4 linked regions of the Homo sapiens genome follow. The protein of the gene in region 2 purifies or fractionates together with the protein of the main gene of each other region. This does not show direct contact. Each region holds a gene or a part of one and is shown on either strand. Other genes may lie near its edges. The genes, in order: TCP10L, ZER1, CUL2 and MGME1.

Region 1 (5,234 bases), on a different chromosome or scaffold from region 2:
TTTTCTGTTCTTGTCAAGAAGATGCAACCATCTCTTGACACCCACTCCGAATCTCACTTCCCCAGGATGAAAAGGTGAGCTTCTCAGGTCTCCCTCAGGGGAACCTGGCGGGCCACCCTTGCAGAAGCCACTCAGCCCACCTACCTGCAGCTCTGCAATGTTTGGGGAAGAAGCAGTGAACTCATCAGGTTGAACGTGGCTGAGAAATCCACCTTCAGAACTCTCTAAGACTGAGGAGCTTCCGTCTAAAAAGCAAATAAGTTAAATTTAAAAGGATAGTGTATATACATTGTGGAAATATCAGTATCCTAATGCGATTGCTAAATTCAATTTAAGCAAACGTGTGAACACATTCTTTCTTGTTCATGAGATTACTATACACATGTCAGGTCAGTTCAACAACAAATGATCCTGTAAGGAACATTAATTCTTTAATGAATACACTCAGTCGGTATTTCTCTTTCGAGTATTCTGATGGATCAGGAGATTCACGGATGGAAAGGCACTGTCTTGGCCCTGAAGCTGCTCACAGTCCCGCAGCAGGCAAACACAGAAGAGAAAAGCCGAATCCCTGTGACACTGGCTTACGGGACCTATGAAGGGCCACGGGCCATTGTGAAGGAGCACCACAGGCTTCCAGGAGAGCCAGGAGTCAGGGGAGCTTCCCCAGGATGGCGTCACTGTCAGCTGAGATGATGCCTGGAGGTTGCGGAGATACTAGCAGGTGTGTGTGAGAGGCAAGGTCCCCCATTCTGCCCGGCACCAGCAAGTACACTGAAGTCTTGTCCGGGGGCCTGAAGGGGAGGGGACAGCAGGAACAAGGTAGCCAGGCTGGAGCAGACCTGATGGGAAGGGCTTCCCTGCCCCACAGAGAAGTGCAGAGGGGACTGTGAGGGCACGCAGAGCCTGAGGTGGTCTGAAGCAGACAGATGGCACCAGCCTCACCTCTACGAAGCTCCCTGCAGAGGCCATGAAACAGCCTGGGGGTGGGCAGGAAGCCCGGGGGGCAGACTCAGGAGGAAGACAGTGTCAGATTCGGCCCTGAAGGGCCACGCAGACCTCGGCCAAGGATGGGAAGGAGTCCAGGTGCCAGGCAGCCCAGGGCGAGTGGTGCCCACAGGCTTGGGCTGTGCTGTGCATAAGGGCCACACCTGAAGCTCGGCCACACCTGAGGCTCGGCCACCACATAGGCCCCGTTTCTTTACCAAGATAGGTTCCTGCAGAGGTCGTGAAGCTGCTGTGGTCATTTGCTGGCAGCGACGTGAAGATAGAATTCTTTCCTGACTCAACCAGGGGCACTCTCGTCTCCTCCCCGTGAGACCCGCAATGCAGGAAGCACCCACAGCTGCATGGACAGAACTGGGGCCTGGGAAAGAGGCCAGGAAGGTGCCAGATGAGAGGGCGCTCCATCAGGGTGGCAGCAATGCCATGGGCTGGCAAATGGAGAAAGGGGAACAAAGCACCCAAGTGCATCTAGCCCCAGCCACACGCCTTCTGCTGGGAGTGTGCTCAGAGGGAAGTGACCGCTAGGATTCGGAATCTCCAGTCACGGCCCCTGGAGACCGGCATGTGGGCTGTGTGTGGGGTGGAGGGCTGGGGGTGTTGGCAAGTCTCACAGGTGAGGACCCAACGAGGGAATCAGACAAAAAGTGGCCACAAATTAGGCAGCTCCAGGAAGGACATGTCCTTGCCATAGTAAGATGTTCTGCTCACGCGTATCCACGAGAAAGCCCCGCATTTCACGGGGAGCATAGAAACAGGAGTCCCCAACTCTGCTCACCAGCTCCTCCGGCTGCTGCCATCTGCTCCTGCAGCATGGCGGCCTGGGAAGCCTGCACTGGTGATTTTCTGCCACTCAAGTTTTGCAGACTTCGGGAAGATGGATGCATAGCCTGGGGCAATGACAGTCACAGGCCCGCCTTGTCACAAGGTCCCTGGAGCGGGCAATGCCTTGAGCCCAAAGGCTGGGAGCACAAAGCCATCTTCAGCCATCCTCGATTTCCAGCAAGACCCCAGGGCTCACCCAACAGCCCGACACTCCATACTACAAGGTGGGTTAATTTTTTTAAAGACTCTGCAGAAATATACCAACTACAGAGCTCAGGAAAGCAACTGATTTATAAAACCCAATCCAAGTTGTTTGCTTTTATAGCATTAGAGACATGTCTGAAGAACTTCAAGTTTTTATCTATAGAAACATAATTAGTTTAATAAATTACTAGGTCTATTTTGAATAACAAATTGAGTACTTTTATTAGACCTAAGTGGAACTTTATCTGAATCTGAATTTTCCAAGGGGCCAGTGTAGAGTGACACAGGTGTCCGAGGCCACCTTTCCATCTTCAGACACCCCCCCGTCTCTCTGCACAGGGAGTTGGCCTTCCAGTAGGTGTTGCTCTTCTGTCTTGACGTCTCCTGGAAAGATTTTTATCTCTATTTTCCTGTGGTGGTGTTTTCCACGAGCTAATTCTTTCTATCTTTAAACTCATTGGCTGAAAACAAATGTGGGAATATTTTTGCATTAGTAACAATTATATTATTTTTAAATGTTAAGCAACACATCATACCAGCTATCACAGAATGTAGATGATTCTACTCCCCCTTCCTACAGAAGGACACATGAGGTATCCACACTTAGTGTCTCTCATTCCCCATTTTACAGCCCACGCTCTTGTGAAATTTGGGATTCCAATACATGGCTGATATTGTAAAGTCAACAGTGAAATAAAGTGCTTGAAACTCAATTCAAAAATGCATAATAAAAATAATTTTCTACATTTTGCACTATTTAACAATTGATGGTTTCAAGGCGTGGATAAGCCACCCATTCAGTTATCTATTTACTCGTACATTGCCCCGCATGCCTGTGATTAACTCAGGTCAATGATGGAGCATGAGAGAAGTCCGCGTCTCACAGGAGGCTGGGCCTGTGCAGTCCACCCTGGGACTTACGATGTTTTGTACTCATAGGATCTGAAAAGGCTCTTTTCCTACTTGTGACAAATGCTTGGAGTAGATTTCTGATCTTCCTTCAGGGAATAAAGTGTTATCTGCTCAGCAGTTGCTTTGGGAAAGAATGCGAGGGGATAAATCATCTTCAGGAGTTGGGGGCGCCTTCTCCATCCACATCAACCCAGTATCAGTTGCTGGCTGTGGACTCACGAGATTTGCTTCCTGAGTATGAGGGTGACACAAAGCTGGGACAGGAAGAGACACACTGGCTGGGAGAATGTTCTAAAGAGGAGCTAATTTTAACAAAGAAAAATGTGATAGAGACTGCCGAGACCAGCTCGGTCAGGAAGACCCTAACCCAGCAGTGCTAGAGGAATTAAAGACATACGCACGGAAGTATAGCATGTGGAGTGGGAAATCAGGGCACTCACAGCCTTCAGAGCTGAGAGCCGTGAACAGAGATTTACCCACATATTTATTGACAGCAAGCCAGTGATAAATTGTTTCTATAGATTATAGATTAACTAAAAGTATTCCTTATGGGAAACAAAGGGATGGGCCAAAACAAAGGGATGGGCTCTGGCTAGATATCCACAGCAGAAACATGTCCTTAAGGCACAGATCGCTCATGCTACTGTTTGTGGTTTAAGAACGCCTTTAAGCGGTTTTCCACCCTGGGTGGGCCAGGTGTTCCTTGCCATCATTCTGGTAAACCCACAACCTTCAGCGTGGGCATCATGGCCATCACGAACATGTCACAGTGCTGCAGAGATTTTGTTTGTGGCCAGTTTTGGGGCCAGTTTATGGCCAGATCTGGGGGCCTATTCCCAACAAGAGACAAAATAGCATCCTGTACTGTGGCTCCCAAGCTAACAGCGCCACCCCTGTTCAGAGGAGTCCACGCCGACAAGCAGCAGGTGCAAGACCGCAGTGCAGAAGCAGGGAGCACGGGAGGCTGCGAGCCCTCAGACTCACGGGTGGAGACAGTGCCACACACATCACCTCCGCAGCCTGCACCCACGGAAACAAAGCCCCCAAGTCCCCTCGGCCCCAGCCAGACGCTTGCTGCTGTGAGTGTACTCAGAGGGAAGCAGCCGGGAGGACTTGGAATCTGCTCCACAGCAAGAAGTGCTAAGGGTTAGGATCTTGTTTGAAAGGCATGTACCCGTGTCCTTGGAAGAACACAGGACTCCAGGGAGCACCATGCTCACCCAGGGAGGTGAAATTGTGTGGTGAGGAGCTGATGGGATGTGTGTGTTTGGGTACAGAACCTCTGCTTCTCTTTACAGATGATAAGCACAAAGGGTCACCTTTGGAGGAGCTGAATTGTTAGATGACGATCTTTGTCCCAGGAGAGTGGCACTCTGATTCTTGTGGCCAGCGTATTTGGGTATTGTCTCTTCATCAGCTGACAGAGGTGAAATTTTTCCAAAAGCAGGTTCCAATGCCTAAAAGACAAAATGCAGGGAAATTCTTCACATTTTCGAAGGTAAAATAAATTCAAATTTTAATACAATGAAGAATAATTGGAATGTCCTAGAAAAAAATAGGGTACAAGGTAGGGGGACTTGGACTGGGTTTTCCCCCTAATATGTTGATAAGAACAGAAACCCTCACCAAGCGTTTGTGAAGGAACCTTTGTGGAGCCGATGTTTGCTTTGTGTTTCTTATTGTGGTTCCTTGTTTCAAAATGATCACAGGATCCCAAAGGCTACAGAACAAACAATCCCCAACATATCTTCCTTTAGGCTCCTGTGTCTTCAACCGGGAGTGTGTTAACGGAGGAAGAAAATGTGATACTACTTCTAGTGTTGTCTCTACAACTTGTCTAAGATCCAAAATGCAAATTCCCAACTTTCCCTGTTATCAGCAGACTGACCTGGAACAGGGTGATCCTTCAGGTGGGATGAGGTATATTAGGTCTGGAATGCTAAATTATTCACCGTTCTGCCCTCTGAGGAGGAGAAGGGAATGAGAAGGGGAGAGGGTTGCTATGAACGAACCCTTAATATCAGATCCAGAGTGGCTCACCCACACAGCCATGCCCGCGTTCTGTGGGTGCTCGAGTCTCAGCCTTTTAGATATTCAGTCCCTAAAACGGCGACTACACACAGATACACCTTCGCATATTTAAAGTGTGGGATTCACATATCCCATCCTGTTTCTTCAAATCAGGTATGCTCTTGTGAGCGTACATCCTGTTCTTATAAATAGCCCCACGGTGACCAGTGCAATGCACAGAATGGAAAAATATTTGGAAATTCACCAAGCTCTAATCTCAA
Region 2 (5,234 bases):
TGCTCTGCCCTTACCATGCTCCCCAAGTGGAAGAAACACCACCACGTCAGTTGTCACGGTCACCAAAAGCCCCCAAAACATAAGCCAGGTAGATGGCGCCATCTGCTAGCCTCCCCTTAGCAGTGTTGACCTTGCCACTCAGGGCTGGAATGAGCTGGAAGAGGAAGCAGCCATCTTACATCCTGGCACAGAGACTGAAGGGCCCCGGGGCTACCATGCCCTGAGACCCATCCAGCTGCGGGCCTGGCACCTGCCAGAGGCAGCCATCTCTACCTACTCCACTCTACCTACTCCATTCCTTAGGGATTGTCATTCTCAGGGCAGTCACAGGCCATCTGGAATTCCAGCAACTGAGGACAGAGGGAGCTCTGGTTATGACCGACCACCACACTGGGAGAACCCTGTGTCTTTCTCCATCCCTTTTCTTGCATGTTCTCTAATACTAGGTCTATCATGAACATTCGACATCCTGGGGAATGAAGGAAGTGGGAGAGAAGAGAGAGAAAAACAGCACCAGCAGCAGCAGCAGCAGAAGGCACCGCCATACCACGTCCATGTTGGCTGCTTCCAGATGTGGTCCTAAGCTCCTTACAGGCTTTACTCCCTCGAGTCTCTTACTCAACCGACAAAATATTTCCTAGTACCCTGTACTTGCAACTAATTAATCATTTACATAACAATTTGTCAACTGACACCCTCCTACTGCCTGTGAGCTCTGGGAGGACAGAAGCTGTATGCTTGCTTGCATGCCTGCATCCATGCACATGTACACACACACACACACACACACACACACACACACACACGTGCGCAAGCGCGCACGCACCTGTATCCTTGGTGTCTGACTTCGGTGCCCAATTTATGCCTGGTGTTTAATAGAACAAAGGTTTGCTGTGGCTGGAATTCCCTTACTCTAGTACTGCAAGATAGAGATTATTACCCCATTTTCTGATGAAGATACTGACGCATACACAACTAAGCAGAAGCTTGCCTGAGATCACAAAACTGATGAGAGTGGGATGCAAACCTAAAGCAGACCCCCGCTTCTCACCAAATATTTGGTCTTCAGTCCATCCATCCAAACAATGGGAGGGAAAGAGAAACTGAAGTCTGGAGGTGGGAGCATGGGATCCCACCAGTGTCCTGATACCCAGAGGACAGAGAGGTTGGGGGAGCCAGAAGCTCTGAGCCTTGGAGCAGTACTCACCCTGTGAAATATTAACCTAGGAGCTGGGGGGAAAACCCAAACAAATGCCCTATTTACAGAGGCTAGACGCTTTCCAGGAGGCAGCAGATCAAGGGCCAGAGACTGGGGGTGTGAGGGGAGTCACAGCAAGTGTGGGGATCTCCAGGTGGTCGGGAAACAGGTGAAAACCAGACGCCACCTGGCTCTGAAAAGTCTGCAGAGATTAAATCTATGAGTTGGGTTATGTCAGAAAGATGCAGACACACAATAATTGGGGAGTGTGCCTCACAGCTAGGTGGCTGCTCATGATGCTGGAGACAGAGAGGCCTTGAGGAGGCTGCATTCGGCTAGTAATCAGACTGGTTGGGTTCTATTCTTGTAACCAAATGTATTAATGATCCTACCCATACTGAATACCAAGTATATACCAAGAATTCTGGCTGGGCGTGGAGGCTCACGCCTCTAATCCCAGCACTTTGGGAGGCCAAGGCGGGCGGATCACGAGGTGAAGAGATTGAGACCATCCTGGCCAACATGGTGAAACCCTGTCTCTACTAAAAATACAAAAATTAGCAGGGCGTGGTGGCGGGCGCCTATAGTCCCAGCTACTCAGGAGGCTGAGACAGGAGAATTGCTTGAACCCGGGAGGTGGAGGTTCCAGTGAGCCAAGATTGCACCACTGTACTCCAGCCTGGCAACAGAGCAAGATTCCATCTCAAAAAAAAAAAAAAAAAAAGAACTCTGTTAAGTATTTTATATGTGTTAATTAATTGAATTCTCTCAACACCCAACAAGGCAGGAGTTACCATCTACAACTTACAGAAAAGGCAGCTGGAAGGAAGGGGCTATGGCTATGCAATTTGCCAGAGACTATGGATCTGAACAGACAGATATGTACACAGGTAGTTCATTAGTTCAAGACGCAGTGTGTCAGGCTGGGCACAGTGGCCTACGCCTGTAATCCCAGCACTTTGGGAGGCCAAGGCAGGTGGATCACCTGAGGTCAGGAGTTCGAGCCCAGCCTGGCCAACATGGTGAAACTCCATCTCTATTAAAAATACAAAAATTAGCCAGGCATGGTGGCGGATGCCTGTAATCCCAGCTACTTAGGAGGCTGAAGCAGGAGAATCGCTTGAACCTAGGAGGCAGAGGTTGCAGTGAGCCGAGATTGCACCACTGCACTCCTGCCTGGGTGACAGAGCAAGATTCCGTCTCAAAAAAAAAAAAAAAAAAAAAAAGACCCAGTGTGTCCAGCTTTCCAAGCAGTTCGCATCAAAGTCACAGATAACTTATTTATTTATTTATTTATTTTTCTTTCTTTTTTTTTTTGAGATGGAATTTTGCTCTTGTTGCCCAAGCTGGAGTGCAATGGCACAATCTCGGCTCACTGCAGCCTCTGCCTCCTGGGTTCAGGCAATTCTCCTGCCTCAGCCAACCAAGTAGCTGGGATTACAGGTGCCCGCCACCATGCCAGGCTAATTTTTGTATTTTTAGTAGAGACAGGGTTTTGCCATGTTGGCCAGGCTGGTCTCGAACTCCTGACCTCAGGTGATCCACCTGCCTCGGCCTCCCAAAGTGCTGGGATTACAGGTGTGAGCCACTGCGGTCGGCCTATTTATTTATTTTTCTTTTAAGAGACAGGGTCTCACTCTGTCACCCAGGCTGGAGTGCAGTGGTACGATCTCAGCTCGCTGCAACCTCCACCTCTCACGTTCAAGCAATCTCCCACCTCAGCCTCTGGAGTAGCTGTGACTACAGACGTATACCAACAGACCTGGCTAATTTTTTTATTTTTTGTAGCGATGAGGGCTCACCATGTTGCCCAGGCTTGTCTCAAACTCCTGGGCTCAAGCAATACGCCCACCTCAGCCTCCCAAAGTGCTGGATTACAGGTGTGAGCCACCGCACCCAGCTGCCACAGATAACATTTTATCAATATGATAATACATTATCATTTTGTTTCCCAGATAAGGAAACAATGGTTGAAAGATGAGCAATGAGTTGTTCCTCCGGTAAGTGTGTGACCCTAAAGTTCGAGCCCCTTGCCATTATGCTATGGGGAGGGACCATTTCTCCAACCTCAGCTTTCCCTTCTGTTCCACGAGCCTCCGCCGCTTCCTTACAACTCAGGCACTGAGCTCACATGATCCAGTACTGCTGGTAACCACTCCGTGGCATGTCATTTTTTGGCCACAGCATTGAAAGCTTCCTGAGGGCAGGGACCCTATGTGATTTCTGGGGTCTCCATTACAGAGTATGTGAGTGGCTCAATGCCAGTGACAGGGCCTCGGCTCCACAAGATCCCCAGCCAATGTTTTCCAGCCTCAATATTTATCAAGGTCCTTACCTGTCAGCATGTTGCGAGTGGCACACGCTGTGTTGCGCGTGTTGTGAACAGGGTTGCTGAGGAGATGCCATGAAAGGATGGCAGGAAGGTGGTAACCAATAATTATGAAGAGTGATGTTCCTGAGAATAATGCTTCAAGAGACCCTTCTGCATCTCTGAAGCTGGAAAATCAGTTTCAGCGATTGCGCCAGATATAAGACAGTGGTCCACAAATAGATAACCAGACAGGGGTCTCTGCACTCACCTCTCAGGACTCCAGAACAGATGAGGTACTGAAGCCAAGCAAAAAAACCAGAGTGCCAAGAGCAGTCTTCCAGCTAGTGGGCCCCCAAAACGTGTCTGCATAATCCTAGTGGTACTAATGATAATACCTTTGTAGAGAGCTTCAGAACACACCTAATTCTTTCACAAGCTGTGTCTCATTTCATCCTCCCAACAGCCTTTAGAGTTAGTCGGAGGCAAGGGAAGGCCATTATTCTTAATCTACAAATAGGAAAACTGAGGCCCAGAGAGGAGATGGAACCTGCCTAACTCACACAGCAAGCCAACAGCAGAGCCGGGATTTGAACCAGGTCCGCAGGTCACCAGCCTGGGGTTCTACCCACAACAGCCTACCCCAACATGCTGGCTCTCAGCTCCTAAGTGCTCTGACCTTTCATTTTCAAATTCTCTGGCCCAGTTGCCCTGCTCAGCCTGTGTCCCAGGCCTGAGGATATAGTCCGGGCTTGGGGTATAAGGAGGGAGATCAACTGTGGTTCTGCTTCCTATAAAGCAGGCTGGAAAGTCTCAGCCTCTGCCGGGCACTTCCGGATCACCAGCCTCTACCCGTAGATCAGCCACGCACACTCCAACCACATATCTAGGCCCAGCATACACTGCCCCTCCCCACCTGTCTCCAAGTCACATTCATTTCAACACCCTCATTTTGCCTATTTTACGTGGTAGAATGGAAATTTGCTGGGCTCATTTTAATTCTTTTTTTTTTAGAGATAGGGTTTCCCTATGTTCTCCAGACTGGTCTCAAACTCCTGGCCTCAAGCGATCCTCCCAAAGCGCTGGCAGTGCTGGGCTCTTTTTTAAAAGTCCCCATCACCCTCCGCTGCTGTCAGAAAAGCCAGGACCAAGCTAACGTCTTCTCTGCAGAATATTAACCCAGTTACCTCTGAGGGGTGTCAAGAAGTTTCTGTCTTGCTTTCCCCAATATTTCCTCAAATCCTACTAGTTGATGGAGGCAGCTAGAGCTGGTGACACCACCAGCTAGTGCTAAAACGAACGGCTCTGAGGCAGACATACATGCCCACATTCCTCATCATCACATCATCCTCATCAGCGTGACCGCTATGTATTGAGCACTTTGTGTGAAATACTGCATTAAGCACTTCAGCCCATGATTTTATCTAATCCAACAGCCCTATTTTCTTTTCTTTTCTTTCTTTCTTTTTTTTTTTTTGAGATGGAGTTTCGCTCCTGTCGCCCAGGCTGGAGTGCTGCAGTGGCATGATCTCAGCTCACTTCAACCTCCACCTCCCAGGTTCAAGCGATTCTCCTGCCTCAGCCTCTCCAGTAGCTGAGATTACAGGCATGCGTCACCACACCCGGCTAATTTTTGTATTTTTAGTAGAGATGGGGTTTCACCATGTTGGCCAGGCTGGTCTCGAACTCCTGACCTCAGGTGATCCACCTGCCTCCCAAAGTGCTGGG
Region 3 (5,234 bases), on a different chromosome or scaffold from region 2:
ACAACAACAAAAAAAAAAAAAAAGGAAGAAAGAAAATAGCTTGTCATTCAACACAACAAGCTGTCATAGACTGTCTAGTACCTGTCAGAAGAACCCACCAAAAGCATACTTTTCTACTGTGTTGGAATAACTTATCTTAAGGATAACAAGACCTGAACTACCAGGTCTATCACTTTCATAGAGGCTTAAATAAGCAAAGACTGCCTGCAAAGTCACTAAAGGCTGAGAGAAAGGAGAGTTAAAAAGCCAATAATCCTGAGAACAGAGACCCCTTGAACTCGGCAAGACAATCCCTCACATCTCAGAGAGAAGAAATACCTAATAGTACAAAAGTGAGTTTTCCCTCTTAATGGAGATAACCATGAAGAAGTTACTACCTAAGACTTAACTAAGTCAGTTGGATTTGAGTCTACCACAAATGTATTCACTTATGTTTCCATCTCCCAGCCTTGACACAAAATTCGATGCTTCTATGCCCAATGTCATTGGACATGGAATCTATAAACGTAATAATGTAAACTAGTAAGTTTGACAAATAATAGAGTAATAAACCTGAATACTATAAACTAATAGTTCTACAAAAAATAGAAAACTGTGGTAAAGGGAATTTGAAGAAATAAAAAAATAGAAAACTTACACATTATTGTGGCATAACATAAAAACTAAAAATTATTACTTGCCAAAAACCAATCTGCAGCTAAGGTAACAGCCTCTAAAAAGTGCTCCTGAACAGTGACGTCTATACACAGATACTATCTTATAGATGAAGGGCAAACAGCTCTACTTAAGAAGAGACAGTAACATTTGAAGTTATTTCTCTCTTGCTCATCAAACATTACCAGTAATAACAAGATTTGGTGATGGGAAAGACAAACTGTTACAGTACAAACTGTTACAGTCATGTGATTGGCAAAGTATTCGAGAAAGATGAGTATTAGGGATATGAGGGTTATTGTTTTGGGTATTTGGGGCAGCAAGCATATACTTACAGAAGATTATTTTAATCTAAATTTGCTTCCTGGACAACCAAATTCAGAGGATATGGAAAGGAGGCAAATTGCAAGTCGTCTATATTACCACTGATTAATACTACTACCATGACAACAAACTACGTTATCAATGCCAATTACACAAAAACACAGTTATTTAAAAATGGCGAGCTTATTTTCCTGTGGAAAGTTAACAACTGTTCAATGGACACCCTCCGTATGGCTAAGCAGCAGCCTATCAATAGCTTTCTAATAATCTGATAATTCCAAAATGAGTCCAACAAATTCTAGGTTTAAAACATTTGAATAAAGACATTTCTTTCGTTGGCATGGTAAGACTTTTTCTTTCATCTTTCAAAACAATAAAGTCAAAGGAAAGGCTCCACGCTGGATCTGATTAGGAGGAAAACATTGCAGTTTCCCACACAACTCACGTTTTCCTGAGTAAGGTTGCTGGTTGCTCGAAGGCCCTCATCATGGATGTGGTTTTGCAGCTCCTGAATCATATGAGGTAAACCAGTGGACACAGCACGGAGTAAGACGTACATATTTGCCATGTCTGAGAGGAAAAAGACATCTGAGGGTTAACTCCCAAATATTTTCATTTATTAGGTAATATATGGATCCAAGTGCAGGAGTACAATATACGGATCCAAGTGCAGAGCACCCAGAGAAAAGTCCCCCATGCCCACCTCCCAGCCACCCAAGCCCCTCTCCCCACAGGAAAGGGATGTGGTTATTTAACATCTTCCCAAAGATATTTTGTGCAAATTCAAGTGAATACATATATTCTTCCCTTTGCCCCTTTTAATACAGTGTACTGTATTTTGTATATTATTTGTAGCTTCAGAACACATTTTAACTTAGTGGTCTTTTCCTATCAGTACACAAAGCATTTCTATGTATTTTACAGCTGCACAGTACTCCATTATGTGGATATAATTTCTTAACAACTGATGGAAATTTAGGTGGTTTCCAGTCTCTTGATATTGCAATGTTGCAATCAATAATCTTATACATGAGCAAGAATATATGCAATATAAGTTCCCAAAAGTGAGGTTACTGTGTCAAAGTTTAATCTTGTAGACAGATCCTTCTAACCACAGCTGCCAACAGCAGAGAGTTCCTTTGCCAACAATGTGTTGCCAAATGTTTTGATCTCTAACACTGGGAGGTGAATAATGATCTCTCAGTGTAGTAGGTTTAATTTTAAACGTTTCATTAAAGCATCATACATATACAGAAAAGTATACAAACCATAAGTGTATATCTTACTGAATTATCACAAGTGAACACACAACACACCCATGTAATCACACGCAGGATAAGAAACAGGCATTACCTACACCCAGGAGTCCCCTTCATGCCTCCTTCCAATCACACACTCTTGCTCCTCTGCAAAGGTAACCACTGCTGTGACTTCTAAATCACAGATGAGTTTGAACTACGTATAAAAATGGGATCACACAATTCTTTCGTGTCTGGCTTCTTGTGTTCAACATGTGTATAAGGATCATCTATGTTGTTGTGCATGGCTTTAATTTGTTCATTTCCACTCCTCTATAATATTCCATTGTATGAATATACTGTACTATTCTACAGTAACTGGACATTTGAGCTGTTCCAGTTTATGGAGCTATTACAAACACTACTATGAACATTCCTGTATGTCTTTTTGTATATATGTCCAGGCATTGGCAGTGGGGAGGTAAAGCTGGGGGGTGGTTATATGTTTAGGAGAACTGCTGGATCATAAAATATGCATAATATATCCCACTTAGCGGTCAGTGCCAGTTTCCCAAAGTAGTTGCATCAATTTATACTCTCACTTCAGTGTTCAACAAGTTCCTGCTACTTCACACTTCTTTCTATGTTTATTGGCCATCTGGGTATCTTCTATTCTGCAGTGCCTGTTTTTTGAGCATTTTATATTTTGGATATAAATCTTTAGTATTGCAGGTACATTACCCTATAACTGTCTTCTGATGATCCAGTGGTTTTAATGGCTTTTTTTGAGACAGGGTCTTACTCTGTCACCCAGGCTGGAGTGCAGTGGCAGGATCTCGGCTCACTGCAACCACCACCTCCCAGATTCAAGTGATCCTCCCACCTCAGCCTCCCAAGTAGATGGGACCACAGGTGCACACCACCCCGCCTGGCTAATGCTTGTATTTTTTTGCAGAGATGGGATACTGTCATGTTGCCCAGGCTGGTCTTGTACTCCTGAGCTCAAGCAATCTTCCTCCCTCTTAATGGCCTTTTAATAATCCAAAGTTTTTCATTTTAATGTAGTTCACTGGATCAATCGTTCCTTTGTGGTTAGGGCTTTTTGTGTCCTATTTAAAATATCTTTCCCTGTCTCAAGGTTATGAAGATATTCTTCTATATTATCTTCTAGAAGTGTTATTTTTTTACCTTGTACATTTAGAGAAAAAACTCAATAGTGAATTGATTTTGTATATGGTATCTTGAGGTAGTGATCAAATTTCATTTTCTTCTGAAATGGATATCCAATTGACTGAGCAATGCGTGTTGAAAAGACCATCTTTTACCTGCCGCTCTGCAGCGCCACCTTGGTCTTACATCAAGTGGCCACATATGCTTGGGTTGTTTCTAGGATCTCTTATTTTATTAGGATATCTGTCTGTCCTTGTACCAATGCCTCACTGTCTTAATTACTATAGGTTTTACAATAAGTCTTGCTGGTCATTAAAGTCTTTCCATCATACTCTTCAAGACAGTGACTTTCGGAATTAAAATGAAATTATTGGGTTTTGACTACATTGCCCTGGATCTATGAAATTAATGTTGCTGTAAAAAACACGGGGCCAAGGGTGGTGGCTCGTGTCTATAATCCCAGCACTTTGGGAGGCCAAGGCAGGTGGATCACGAGCTCAGGAGTTCGAGACCAGCCGGCCAACATAGTGAAACCTCGTCTCTACTAAAAATACAAAAATTAGCCAGGTGTGGGGGCGGATGCCTGTAGTCCCAGCTACTCAGGAGGCTGAGGCAGGAGAATCGCTTGAACCCAGGAGGCAGAGGTTATAGTGAACAGAGATCGCGCCACTGCATTATAGCCTGGGCCACAGAGCGGGACTCCGTCTCAAAAAACAAAAACAAAAAGCCTGATTAATGGCCGGGCGCGGTGACTCACACCTGTAATCCCAGCACTTCGGGAGGCCGGGGCAAGCAGATTATCTGAGGTCAGGAGCTCAAGACCAGGAGGCCAACATGGTGACACCCCGTCTCTACTAAAAATACAAAAATTAGCTGGATGTGATGGCACACACCTGCAATCCCAGCTACTTGGGAGGCTGAGGCAGAATTGCTTGAACCTGGGAGGCAGGGGTTGCAATGAGCCAAGATCATGCCATTGCACTCCAGCCTGGGCGACGGAGCGAGACTCCATCTCAAAAAAATTAATTAATTAAATAAAATATACATATTTATTATCTTTCCTGCCTATAAAAGTAATGCATGTTTTTTGTTTTTTTAAAAATCAGAGAGGCCGGGCGCAGTGGCTCACGCCTGTAATCCCAGCACTTTGGGAGGCTGAGGCGGGCGGACCACAAGGTCAGGAGTCCGAGACCAGCCTGACCAACATGGTGAAACCCTGTCTCTACTAAAAGTACAAAAAAATTAGCCAGGTGTGGTGATGAGCGCCTGTAATCCCAGCTACTCAGGAGTCTGAGGCAGGAGAATCACTTGAATCTGGGAGGCGGAGGTTGCAGCGAGCCAAGAGCACGCCGCTGCACTCCAGCCTGGGCGACAGAGTGAGACTCTGTCTCAAAAAAAAAAAAAAAAAAAAAAAAATCAGATATAGCTGATTTTTTATATTATATAAATTATTACATTTATTACATAATATTTGTATTTCCTTTTTATAGTCTTTGCCTTTATTCCTACTGTTTATCAGGAATTCTAAATGCATTAAGGAAATTAGCTCTTGTAATATATAAAAATGTATAAACACAATTTCCCACTTTTTCTTCTGATTTTAGAACACTCTGAAAACACTTTCCTAAAATAGTCTTTCAAAATAAAGTATTAATAATCTGTAAAAGGTTATTTAAAATATTTTAAAGACTATTACTAAAATAGGCATTAAATCAAGGGTGACTAGAGGATGATATAAAAGGTGGATTTATAATTTAATTTCTACTCATGTTTGGTGTCACTTACCATTTTTTTTCTCTTGTCGAATTATATTATGACATTCTGCATGTAAAAACTGTAAGTGGTCTG
Region 4 (4,536 bases), on a different chromosome or scaffold from region 2:
GGATATCTCCTAACTCAGTTTCTAAGGTAGGTTGATCAAAGACTGCACCAGGACACAAGAACACAAAGATGACAGATAAAACATTGAAGACTGGGCTGTGATCCTTACAGAGCCATTGAAAAAAAAAAAAGGCCCAAGAAGAGGGTGGAAAAGTGCTTTTTTTTTCTTTTTTGAGACAGGATCCCACTCCCATCGTCCAGGCTGGAGTGCAGTGGCACAATCTCGGCTCGTTGCACCCTCGAAGCTGAGGCGGGCACCACTTCCGGCTGATTTTTCTATTTTTAGTAATGATGGAGTTTTGTCACGTTGCCCAGGCTGGTCTTGAACTCCTGGGCTCAAGCAATCTGCCCACCTCGGCCTCCTTCAAAGTGCTGGGATTACAGGCATGAGCCACCACCCCTGGCCAAAAAGTGCTATTTATTTATTTATTTATTTATTTATTTATTTGGAGAGAGACAGTCTTGCTCTGTTGCCCAGGCTGGAGTGCAGTGGAACAACCTTGGCTCACCGCAACCTCCGCCTCCTGGGTTCAAGCGATTCTCCTGCCTCAGCCTCCCAAGTAGGTGGGACTAGAGGCACACACCACCACGCCCAGCTAATTTTTGTATTTTTAGTAGAGACAGGGTTTCGCCATGTCAGCCAAGCTGGTCTTGAACTCCTGACATCAGGTGATCTGCCCAACTCGGCCTCCCAAAGTGCTGGAATTATAGGCTTGGGCCACCACACCTGGCCTATTTATTTATTTTTGAGACAGGGTTTTGCTCTGTCGGCCAGGCTAGAGTGCAGTGGTACAATCTCGGCTCACTGGAACCTCCACTTCCTGGGCTCAAGCAATCCTCCCACCTCAGCCTCCCAAGTAGCTGGCACAAGTGTGCGCCACCATGTCCAGCTAATTTTTGTATTTTTTTTGTAGATACGGGGTTTCACTATGTTGCCCAGGCTGGACTCAAACTCCTGAGCACAAGCAATCTGCCTGCCTCGGCCTCCCAAAGTGCGTGAGCCACTGTGCCCAGCCAAAAAGTGCTTTTTTAAGTGGGAAAGGAACAAGGAAGACGTTAAGCAATGGGATAAAAATAGAGATTAAAAAAGGAAAAACCTCAAGGAGTTCTATTTTTTAACTTTTTTTTTTTTTACAATTTTTCTCCTCCTACCCCCCCACTGAGAAGTTTTTTTTTTTTTTTTTGAGACAGATTCGAGATGGAGTCTCACTCTCTTGCCCAGGCTGGAGTGTAGTGGCGCAATCTTGGCTCACTACAACCTCCACCTCGCGGGTTCAAGCAATTCTCCTGCCTCAGCTACTAGAATAGCTGGGATTACAGGCATGAGCCACCATGCCCAGCTAGTTTTTGTATTTTTGGTAAAGACAGGGTTTCACCATATTGGCCAGGCTGGTCTTGAACTCCTGACCTCAAGTGATCCACCGGCCTTGGCCTCCCAAAGTGCTAGGATTACAGGCATGAGCCACTGCGCCCGGCCCGGAGTTATAGTTTTAAGTAAGCATTGAGCAAAGCTTTAAGTAAAGGCTCAGTGTCCTGACCTGAAAGCTGTAGTTGGTATCATGGTTCATGGCACCCATGTATGCCACAACTTGCAGTGGGTTGTCAAATGTACTTTGAATAAAAGGCTTTGGTTTCTCTGATGTCTTCCAATCAATCACACAGAGCTTGCCCCTAAAGAGAAACCACAGGAAGACTTTGTAGGTAATAGATCACAATGAAAATCTCTACTAGGTTAACAGTTCTCTTATGTATAGTTTGTTACTTGTCAGCCAATGACCATTGCTCTTATTCACCATTTTTTTCCTTTTTTAAAAAAGAGATGGGGTTTCATATGTTGCCCAGGCTAAACGCATACTCCTGGGCTCAAGTGATCCTCCCACCTCAGCCTCCCAAGTAGCTGGGACTATAAGTGCACCCCCCCACTTTTTCTCCCTCTTTTTTTGCATCAAATAACCAGTGGATTCCTCCCCCCATCCCCTATCCTGGTCGGGTTTATACTTGCCAAATGCAAATATCAAAAGGATACAGAGAGTGGACCAGTAACTGGTGACTCTCAAAGGACTCTATCGGTTCAATCTGTCTTTCATGACTTCAATTTCAAAATCAGCAGTTTATAGGGAGATTTTGTACAAAGCATGTATATTACTTACATGTCACTATAGCTCTAGACAGTTACACCTCATGCAAACTCAGTCTAGAGCAGCACTGGCTAAAAGAAGTAAAATGTGAGCCATGTGTCATTTTAAATTTTCTAGTAGCCACATCGGAAAAGAAAAAAAAAATACAGCTGAAATTTTAACATTTTACTTAACCCAACATATCCAAAATATCATTTCAACATGTAATCAACTAACAAATGATTAATGGGATATTTTACGTCTTTTTTTTATTATAGGGATATTTTACATTCTTTTTTGTACAAAGTCATTGAAATGTAGTTTGTATATTGCTATAGCACACCTTAGTTTGGCCTGACCACATTCAAATGCTCAATAGCTATAGGGGTTAGTGGCTACTCTACTGGACAGTTTAGGTTTAGAGATAATTTTATTGTCTTCAGAATTGTTTTGTAATATTGCCAAGTTTGACAATCTGTGTAGTTGAGAAAAGGGCCCCAGTAACTCTAGGATGCCATTCCTGGTTCTTCTTTTTTTTTTTTTTTTTTTAGATGGAGTCTCACTCAGGCTGGAGTGCAGTGGTGTAATCTCGGCTTACCACAACCTCCGCCTCCTGGGTTCAAGCTATTCTTCTGCCTCAGCCCCCTGAGTAGCTGGCATTACATGTGTGCGCCACCTCGCCCAGCTAATTTTTGTATTTTTAGTAGAGATGGGGTTTCGCCCTATTGGCCAGGCTGGTTTCAACTCCTAACCTCAAGTGATCCACCCGCCTTGGCCTCCCAAACTGCTGGGATTACAGGTGTGAGCCACCATGTTATATTTCTGCCACAGAACACTGTTTGCAGCAATGTACTGTAATTGTAGAACTTAATAAATGTAAAAAAAAAAACCTTAATAGCATTCTGAAAACTATAAAATATTGATGAAAGAAACTGAAAATGATACAAATAAATGGTAAGATATCCTCTGTTTATGGACTGGAAGAATATTGTTAAAATGTCCATACTATCCAAAGCAATCTATAGGTTCCACGCAATCTTTATCATAATTCCAATGGCAGGCCAGGTGTGATGGCTCACACCTGTAATCTCCAGCACTTTGGGAGGCCAAGGCAGGTGGACTGCTTGAGCTCAGGAGCCCGAGACCAGCCTGGGCAACATGGTGAAACCCTGTCTCTATAAAAAATACCAAAAAATCAGCCAGGTGTTGTGGCTGGAGCCTGTTGTCCCAGCTACTCAGGAGGCTGAGCCCAGGAGGTGGAGTTTGCAGTGAGCCGAGATTGCACCACTGCACAACAGCGTGGGTAACAAAGCCAGACCCTGTCTCAGGAAAAAAGAAAAAAAAAAAATTCTGCCGGGCACGGTGGCTTACACCTGTAATCCCAGCACTTTGGGAGGCCAAGGTGGGCAGATCACCTGAGGTCAGGAGCTCCAGACCAGCCTGGCCAACATGGTGAAACCTCGTCTCTACTAAAAATACAAAAATTAGCCAGGCGTGGTGATGTGCCCCTGTAATCCCAGCTACTCGGGAGGCTGAGGCAGGAGAATTACTTGAACCTGGGAGGCAGAAGTTGCAGTGAGCTGAGACTGTGCCATTGCACTGCAGCCTGGGCGACAAGGGTGAAACTCTGTCTCAAAAAGAAAAAAAAATTCCAACATCATTTTTCACAGAAATAGAAAAAAAAAAATCCTAAAATTAACACGGAACCACAAAAGACTCCGAATAGCCAAAGCAATCTTGAGTGAAAAGAATGAAGTCGGAGGCATCACACTGCCTGATTTCAAAGTACAGTCATGTGTAGCTTAATGACAGGGATATGTCCTGAGAAATGCATGGTTAGGCAATTTTGTCATTGTGCAAACATAGAGTATATTACACAAACCTAGGTAGGATAGCCTACTACACACCCAGACCTTTGCTCCTAGGCTACAAACCTGTACAGCATGTTACTGTACTGAATACTGCTGGCAACTATAACACAATGGTAAGCATTAGTGCATCTAAACACAGAAAAGGTACAGTAAAAATGTGGTATAAAAGATAAAAAACAGTATACTTGTATAGGGCACCTACCACGAATGCAGCTTGCAGGACTAGAAGTTGCTCTGGGTGATTGAGTGAGTGAGCGGTGAGTGAATGTGAGGGCCTGGGACATTACTGTATACTACTATAGACTTTATAAACACTGTACACTTACGCTACACTAAATTTATAAAAAACGTTTTTCTTTCTTCAATAATACATTAACTTTAGCTTACTGTAACTTTTTTACTGTATAAACTTCTTTAATTATTTTGAGATGGTGTTTCACTCTTGTTGCCCAGGCTGGAGTGCAATGGCACAATTTTGGCTCACTGCAACCTCCACCTCCCAGGTTCAAGCGATTCTCCTGCCTCAGCCTCCCAAATAGCTGGGATTAC

The links.
Region 1: the proteins of ZER1 (region 2) and TCP10L purify together in Homo sapiens (co-immunoprecipitation; one large-scale study listed by IntAct). This does not show direct contact.
Region 3: the proteins of ZER1 (region 2) and CUL2 purify together in Homo sapiens (affinity purification with western blotting; 2 studies listed by BioGRID and IntAct, with this or other methods). This does not show direct contact.
Region 4: the proteins of ZER1 (region 2) and MGME1 purify together in Homo sapiens (co-immunoprecipitation; one large-scale study listed by IntAct). This does not show direct contact.

What each region holds. Positions count from the first base shown.
Region 1 is NC_000021.9:32,574,432-32,579,665, forward strand, and holds part of TCP10L (T-complex protein 10A homolog 1), read right to left. Parts: intron 4,401-5,234; coding exon 4,263-4,400; intron 2,493-4,262; coding exon 2,343-2,492; 3' UTR 1-2,342. Other genes in the region: CFAP298-TCP10L (uncharacterized protein LOC110091775), read right to left, coding at 2,343-2,492, 4,263-4,400. UniProt on the Homo sapiens protein: May be involved in transcriptional regulation. Has in vitro transcription inhibition activity. Acts as a tumor suppressor in hepatocellular carcinoma (HCC) cells.
Region 2 is NC_000009.12:128,764,445-128,769,678, forward strand, and holds part of ZER1 (protein zer-1 homolog), read right to left. Parts: intron 1-5,234. UniProt on the Homo sapiens protein: Serves as substrate adapter subunit in the E3 ubiquitin ligase complex ZYG11B-CUL2-Elongin BC. Acts to target substrates bearing N-terminal degrons for proteasomal degradation with the first four residues of substrates being the key recognition elements.
Region 3 is NC_000010.11:35,033,749-35,038,982, forward strand, and holds part of CUL2 (cullin-2), read right to left. Parts: coding exon 5,172-5,234; intron 1,549-5,171; coding exon 1,424-1,548; intron 1-1,423.
Region 4 is NC_000020.11:17,985,300-17,989,835, reverse strand, and holds part of MGME1 (mitochondrial genome maintenance exonuclease 1 isoform 2 precursor), read right to left. Parts: intron 1,671-4,536; coding exon 1,538-1,670; intron 1-1,537. UniProt on the Homo sapiens protein: Metal-dependent single-stranded DNA (ssDNA) exonuclease involved in mitochondrial genome maintenance. Has preference for 5'-3' exonuclease activity but is also capable of endonuclease activity on linear substrates.